2 linked regions of the Homo sapiens genome follow. The protein of the gene in region 1 interacts with the protein of each later gene in a pairwise test. Each region holds a gene or a part of one and is shown on either strand. Other genes may lie near its edges. The genes, in order: RUNX3 and HDAC5.

Region 1 (3,806 bases):
CCCTTGGAGGACTGTGCACTCCAGGGTTCGGCTGATCAACCCTAACACGGTCACGGCCATTCTACCTCACGTGACTTGGTGGGAGGCTGCCAGTCAGGCAGGGTGGCCAGGCCCTCTTTTACAAGTAAGAGAACTGCAACTGCGGAGAGGCGAGGAAGCTTGTTGGAGGCCACACGCCGAACAAGGGGTGGGATTTCCTGGACCTGGGACCCTTTAGAAAAGATGGAGGCTAGGCATGGTGGCTACGCCTGTAATCCCAGCGCTTTGGGAAGCCGAGGCGGGCGGATCACCTGAGTGAGGTCAGGAGTTTGAAACCAGCCTGACCAATATGGTGAAACCCCGTCTCTACTAAAAGTACAAAAATTAGCCGGGCGTGGTGGCGGGCGCCTATGATCCCAACTACTTGGGAGGCTGAGGCAGGAGAATCGCTTGAACCCGGGAGGCGGAGGTTGCAGTGAGCCAAGATCACACCACTGCACTCCAGCCTAGGTGACAGAGCAAGATTCCATCTCAAAAAAAAAAAAAAAAAAAAATGTGGGAGGGGGTAAGGGGGAGGAGAAGGTTTGCCTAAGGCCTTGGGTCTAGAATGACATGTGCGTTTTCTAGTTTGGCAGAGGGAGAAGAGGCAAGATGTAGGTGGGAGGTAAAACAGAACTCACTGCGCTTCTTGGGGCCTGAACAAGTGATTGCTGGGGACTCGAAAAGTGGGAAAAGCCTGTCGACCACTGTAGGGCATGAGGGGACAGAGCCCGAGGCCTCGCATGGGCCTGATTTCTGATTTTCAGAATGGGAACGCAATGGATTCTGGTACTTGTAGGCCCCCAAGCTCCCTACGCATCCCTGTTGGAAGCTCAAACAGGTATCTGGGAGCCTCAGAAAGAAAGCAGGGGGCCTGGGAGCCACAGGGGCTCAGCCAGTCACCAAGAACCAGGGAGCCCCACCTTCTCCTCCAATGAGGCCCCAGACCAGGAATCCATGGGACACTTGGTGGCAGGAATAAGACCATTTGGTCTCTGGCCAGGCCCCCACTGCTGCCTCCCAGGGCCCTTGGCAACAAAGGGGAAAACATGGGCTGGGGGCGAGTTTAGCTGGAGCTGGGGCTGCAAACTCAGATGCCCATGGGGATGGGGCAAGTCACGTGAACGAGGCAAGTGGGATGGGTGGGGCCTGGAGCGGATGGGGAGGAGATGCCTTGTGGAAAGCACCTGACTGCTACCCTGAGGAGGGCAGGCCCAGTACGGCCAGAGCTTCCAATTCCAGACCGAGTCCTCAGCCCTAACAGGCCTTGGAGGAAATGTTGTCCTTGCTCCTGAGGCCACTGGAAATGGCAGGGAGATGTGGATGAGCTGGGGGACAAGTGAGCAGAAGAATCTTAACAGGCATGAAGCCTGCCGGGTGGACGTGGGGACCACAGACTGATCCGACAACAGCCTGAGTGCAAAGGATCTGGGTGTTTTAGTCAGCCACAAGCTTGAAGGGAGCCAATAGGGCTGGTGCAAAACCTCAGGCCTTGTTACTTTCGTCACAGGAGAATAAAGTCCCCTGTTTCTGAGTCACACCATGTACAAAGAGTGTTTACAGTTACTCCTGCGGCCTGGCGGAAGAGGGCGGGGTTGACAGCCAGCCTGGGTTCGAGGACGGGTCCTGTCACTTGCAGTCTGGTGGCCTCACTCAAGTCACACTCCTTTCCCCCACCCCGAGCTGCGGTGTCCCCATCACACTGTCTTTGTGGGTTGAGGTGCTGGCCTAAGGTGTGGACACTTTCCAGTCACGTGGGTCACCACCATCATGACCATCGCTTTTATCTCTGCTCATGCCCAAAGGAAGCAGAACTATCATCCCCATGCTGGAGACCGGGGTGTGGAGGCCAGGATGCTGAAGTCGTGTGAGGAACACAGAGCCTGAGCAGCAAGGCAGGATTCACACCCGGATCCCCCGACTCCAAGCCCAGGGCTCTTTTCCTGACACTTTCCCTTTTGTTCCCATTGTTTAGACGGGGCCACCGAGGCTTCACCATGAGACCGACGCTGAGCGCCTGTTCCGGGACCCAGGCTGTGGGTCAGGTAATCTGACCCCGGAACCCACGCTCCCACCACATGCTCCCTTGCCCTCCGTAGGGCAGACTTCCCGGAGGAGGGGAGTCCAACAGCACTTCGGAAATAGCTTCCTTGTTACTGTGGAACGCTGGAGCCACTGCCAGGGAGGGGAGAGGGGAGCCAAGGCGGCCCCACGTGGCCAGGGCGCCAGAGAGTCTCAGAGCCACAGGGCCAGGGCTCTCACACTGGGAATAGGACAGAAGTTCCAGTGCCTGAGGAAAGAAGATGGTCTTCAGAAAAAGCCTCTTTCATTCGGTTACCCAGAGCAAGAGCTGCGTGGGGAGCTCTGGCTCTAACCCACTCCGTCACCTTGGGCCCAGTCCTGCTACGCCTCAGTTTCCCCTCTGCACAGTCTGCTCACTGAGGCCCCTTCCTTTTGAAAGTCCCTGATTTAAGGTAGCAAAGATCAGCCGCTGGTCAGAGGGGCCCCAGAAAGAAAAGAAGGCAGGGCTGCTGGCCCCAGGGCCCACCCACTACCACTTCTTCCTGCTGCTGCTGTTCCCAGTATTTCTTGAATATTCTCTGCCCCCCACTCTTCAGAGCCTCAGCTCAGGACAGCCTCTGCCAGCAATGCTTTCTGTCCTGTGAAGCCCAGTCCAGGAGCCCCTCCTCCAGGAAGCCCCCCTTCTCCCACAGTAGATCCCCATCACACCTCTGCAGGCTAGGGCTGTCCTTTAAAGCAGTCGCCAGCAGGAGTGGAAATCATCAAAACGGCAGCAGATGCTTGCTGGGTGCTTCCTCCACGGCAGCGTCTAAGCAGCTGACAAGCACCATCTTGTTTCGCCTGGCAGCATCCCCTTGAGTAATGTCTGCCACCATCCTATCATATGGGTGAAAAAACTGAGGCTCTGGACAGCCAGTGAGCTCAAGGTCAAGCAGAAGACACACAGCCACCTGCTCTCCCTAGAGCCTGTGAAAACACATCTATTGTGGCGGAAGAGGGCGGGGTTCACAGCCAGCCTGGGTTCGATACATCAATAGATGTATCGGGACTCCACAATAGATGTTAGGGCCCCGTCCAGCCCCAGGCCCAGAGCTGCTATCTGCAGGCCCAGGAGGATAGGACTTGGGAGAGGAAGATGAGAAGGTCTCAGTGGACTCCACCAGGGGCCCTTCCCTGCTCTGAAGCTCAGGGTTGAGAGTGCAATTTCCAATCATACCCTGCTCTAGACCACCAAGTCACTCTCTGCCTCTGGGCCACAGTTTCCACATCTGTAAAGTGGTTATCATACTGTCTAACCCCTGAGGGTGCCGATGAGCTGGAGGACAGGCCACATGCTTTTAAAAGCAGAGGACTGAGATGGCTGGGGAAAGCCCCGCGTTGGCCCTCAGGGCCTGTCCTGGCTGCTGTCAGCCTCCAGCTGCTGGGCTCAGATCAGACAGCTCCTCCAGCATGGCCTGGATTAGTGTCTATGACCCTCACTTATGGGAGGGCAGATCCCAGCCTGCCCCTCCCAAGGGCCCAGTGGCCCCAAGCTCATACCAGGCAGCTCTCACCCACCAGTGGTCACTGTCTTGGGCAAGCCACTCTTGCCTTCTGGGCCTCAGCTGTCTTATCTGCAAAATGGGGATCACACCTCTAACCCCCGAGGGTCAGGAAAGGTTTCAAGAATTACACAGCCCACCAGGCCTTGGCCTTTGAGGAAGGTGTTCTGGGTTCCCATTCTGACTTGGCCATCTGCTCCTAGGCAAACAGCTCCTCTCTGATGC
Region 2 (3,806 bases), on another chromosome or scaffold:
TGGATTACCTGAGGTCAGGAGTTCGAGACCAGCCTGGCCAACATGGTAAAACCCCGTCTCTACTAAAAATACAAAAATTAGCCAGGCGTGGTGGCACATGCCTGTAATCCCAGCTACTCGGGAGGCTGAGGCAGGAGAATTGCTTGAGCCCAGGAGGCAGAGGTTGCAGTGAGCCGAGATCGTGCCACTGGACCTGGCCGACAGAGCGAGACTCTGTCTCAAAAAAAAACAAAAGAAAAGCTAGGTGTGGTAGTGCCTATAGTCCCAGCTACTCAGAACGCTGAGGTGGGAGGATCGCTTGAGCCCAGGGTGGTGGGGGCAGTGGTTGAGGCTGCAGTGAGCCATGATAGCACCACTACACACTCCACTCCAGCCTGGGTGACAGAGTGAGACCCTGTTTCAAAGAAAAAAAAAAAAAAGCTGGAGAGGAGAGGGGGCAGGTTTGTGGCAGGGTGGCTGCAGTGGCCATGGGGAGGTGTTTGGACCTGGGGGTTGGAGACAGCTCCATGAGCCCTGCTGAGGATCATGGTAGCCAGGCTGGGATCCTGGGCCCAGAGCAGTGCTGGCTGACACATAGGTCTGTGGCCCAGGTGTGGTCTACGACACGTTCATGCTAAAGCACCAGTGCATGTGCGGGAACACACACGTGCACCCTGAGCATGCTGGCCGGATCCAGAGCATCTGGTCCCGGCTGCAGGAGACAGGCCTGCTTAGCAAGTGCGAGGTAAGGGAGCCCCTCCTTCTTCTGGCTCTCAACTTAAATCCAGCCTTTGTTTCCCTGTTAGATAAGCCTCTCTTCATGCTTCTTCCTCATCCTCTCTTCAGCCCCAGACTTCGGGGCCAGTTCTCCCACCACCCCGTTCCATCCCTTGCAGCCTGTTTTCCCCCATGGTCCCCAGCTGAGTGGGGGGGATCCGGGAGTAAGGTCATGACAGAGCCAGGATCTACTTTCTGAAAATATTTGGATCTCCTGAGGCCAGGAAGTGGCTCTGTGTGCCCTGGCTATGGGGCAGAGAGGCTCTGAGAGAGCTGTGCCTTTGTGTGACCCCTCTTACTGATCCTCCTGGCAGCGGATCCGAGGTCGCAAAGCCACGCTAGATGAGATCCAGACAGTGCACTCTGAATACCACACCCTGCTCTATGGGACCAGTCCCCTCAACCGGCAGAAGCTAGACAGCAAGAAGTTGCTCGGTGAGCTGGCACATGGGTGGGCGGGCAGGCATGTTCAGTGTCAGGGTGGGATGGGGGCTCTCAGGAAGACTGCCTGACCAGGCTAGGAGGGTTGTCCCCACGGGCATAGGGCATTGCTGCGGCAGAGGTGGCACAATTATCACGTCACACACCTCCAGAGGGCGCCACTAAAATAGAGCATGCTGTGGGGCGCGGTGCAGGAGGATGGAAGTGCTCGGTTGGGGGGACTGCTTTGTTCCCCTCCTCCACGGCTTATCATGCTCCTCTCTCCCTGCCACCTGCCCCCAGAGGTAAGACGTCCCCAAGGACAGAGGACTGACAGCTTCCAACTGGTGTGGGCTGCAGAGGCCTGTCTTGTACTTGGGTCTGAGCCCTCATTTTTGGTGGCTAAGCCTGTAGCCCTGTGGCAGTTGAGGTGCCTTTTTTTTTTTTGAGACAGTCTTGCTCTGTTGGCCAGGCTGGAGTACAGTGGTGCGATCTCAGCTCACTGCGACCTCTGTCTCCCCAGGCTCAAGCAACTCTCTTGCCTGAGCCTATTGAGTAGCTGGGTTTACAGGTGTGTGCCACCACGCCCAGCTAAGTTTTGTATTTTTAGTAGAGATGGGGTTTCATCATGTTGTCCAGGCTGGTCTCGAACTCCTGACCTCAGGTGATCCGCCCGAGGCCACTTCTAGAGTAGCTCTATTCCTCTTCCATGCAGGCCCCATCAGCCAGAAGATGTATGCTGTGCTGCCTTGTGGGGGCATCGGGGTGAGTAGGGCGTACAGCAGTGGGGGTGGGCGGGCGGCTCTCCTAGGTCTGTCTCTTCCCTGCCTACCACAGCCGCTGGCCCACTGTCCAGGTGCCCTCCCCTGTTCTTGCCCTGCAGGGGGCACACTGAAACCTGCTCTCCTGCCCTGCAGGTGGACAGTGACACCGTGTGGAATGAGATGCACTCCTCCAGTGCTGTGCGCATGGCAGTGGGCTGCCTGCTGGAGCTGGCCTTCAAGGTGGCTGCAGGAGAGCTCAAGGTGAGCGTGTGCTTGTGACCTCGGTGCCCCTTGGCATGGCCCTGCTCCTCAGAGGCAGAGGACAGGGGCAGCCTTGGGATCCTTTCAGTGAGGCACTGTCCTTTGCAAGCTCAACTCTCAGGCACCAGGGTGGGAAGGAGTTGCCAGCTGGGAATTCAGGTTATGAGGGACCAACAAAAAGACACTAATGCCCAGTGCTCTCGTGGGTGTCTCGAGGCAGAAATAGTGTCTGCCTGCTCAAGCCTCATGGTTGGCATTCAAAATGGTCCGTTGAGGCTGGGCACAGTGGCTCATACCTGTAATCTCAACACTTTGGGAGGCCGAGGTGGGCAGATAGCTTGAGCCCAGGAGTTCGAGACCAGCCTGGGCAACATAGTAAAACGCTGTCTCTACAAAAAATTAACCAGGTGTGGTGGCGTGTGCTTGTAGTCCTAGCTATTCAGGAGACTGAGGTGGAAGGATTGTCTGAGCCTGGGAGGCCAAGGTTGTAGTGAGCCATGATCGCGCCACTGCACTCCAGCCTGGGTGACAAAGCAAGACTCTGTCTCCAAAAAAACCCATAAAAAAACAAAGAAACCCCAACAAAATTGTGCATTAAACATATGGATCTGCTTTTCTGGTTTGTGTTCACTTCCCTGCCTGGCTTGTGCTTCTGTCCTGTGCTACCCCCTCCACGGCCTTCCTGCCTGGATCTTGCCCCTCACCTCTGCCTGCACCTCTTCAGAATGGATTTGCCATCATCCGGCCCCCAGGACACCACGCCGAGGAATCCACAGCCATGTGAGTGCCCTAGATTCTCTGCCCTCGCCCCTTCCTGTCTCTTGCAAACGTCATGCTGAGGCTGACCTCCTGCCCTTTTCTCCCCTCCTCAGGGGATTCTGCTTCTTCAACTCTGTAGCCATCACCGCAAAACTCCTACAGCAGAAGTTGAACGTGGGCAAGGTCCTCATCGTGGACTGGGTAGGCAGTGAGCTGGTGGGGCTGGGCAGGGGCGGGTAGAGCTAGGACCAGGGTCAGCCTTCAGGAAGTCTCCTCCCCCAGCCCCACCTTCAAGCACCCCAGTCGTCCTCATCCTCGGGTGCTGGGTGTGGGTGCAGAAGGAAGGGCGCTGGGGCTCCTGCCGGATGACTAACGTCACATTCCAACAGGGCTCCCTCCTCAACTATGAAAGACATTTAGCTCCTGTTCCATCTTGGCCCTCACGTTGCAGTTTCAAGCAACGAAGGGGATTTCCTACCTTGAACGGTAGTGACGCTGCCGCCATTGCTAGTAGCCGATATTTCCTCCCACCCCCTACAATTAGGAGCAGACTGTATACCAGGAACACAATGAGTACTTTATGGCCACCTCGAGTAGTAAGAACGAGGATGTCCATTTCTGTGAACAAAGGTGTTGTTGCGTGACTTACCCAAGGCCACTCAGCTGGGGATGTCGGCACTGGGTTTCAGACCAAGGCTTTTGGCCCCAGCACTCTGCTCTTGCTACCATGGGTGCTTCCCAAACCCTGCTCCTAATGGTGGAGGCAGAGGCACACACCACTCTCTGTGAGCTGGGGAAGTAGCCAGGACCAAGCCTCAGGAAGGACAAAATCTCTTGGAAGCCCAA

Evidence for each region.
Region 2: the proteins of RUNX3 (region 1) and HDAC5 interact in binary tests that used the Homo sapiens proteins (3 or more experiments, as listed by UniProt).

The regions. Positions count from the first base shown.
Region 1 is NC_000001.11:24,909,777-24,913,582, forward strand, and holds part of RUNX3 (runt-related transcription factor 3), read right to left. Parts: intron 1-3,806. UniProt on the Homo sapiens protein: Forms the heterodimeric complex core-binding factor (CBF) with CBFB.
Region 2 is NC_000017.11:44,081,940-44,085,745, reverse strand, and holds part of HDAC5 (histone deacetylase 5), read left to right. Parts: intron 1-590; coding exon 591-724; intron 725-1,070; coding exon 1,071-1,191; intron 1,192-1,891; coding exon 1,892-1,941; intron 1,942-2,093; coding exon 2,094-2,201; intron 2,202-2,925; coding exon 2,926-2,981; intron 2,982-3,073; coding exon 3,074-3,161; intron 3,162-3,806. UniProt on the Homo sapiens protein: Responsible for the deacetylation of lysine residues on the N-terminal part of the core histones (H2A, H2B, H3 and H4).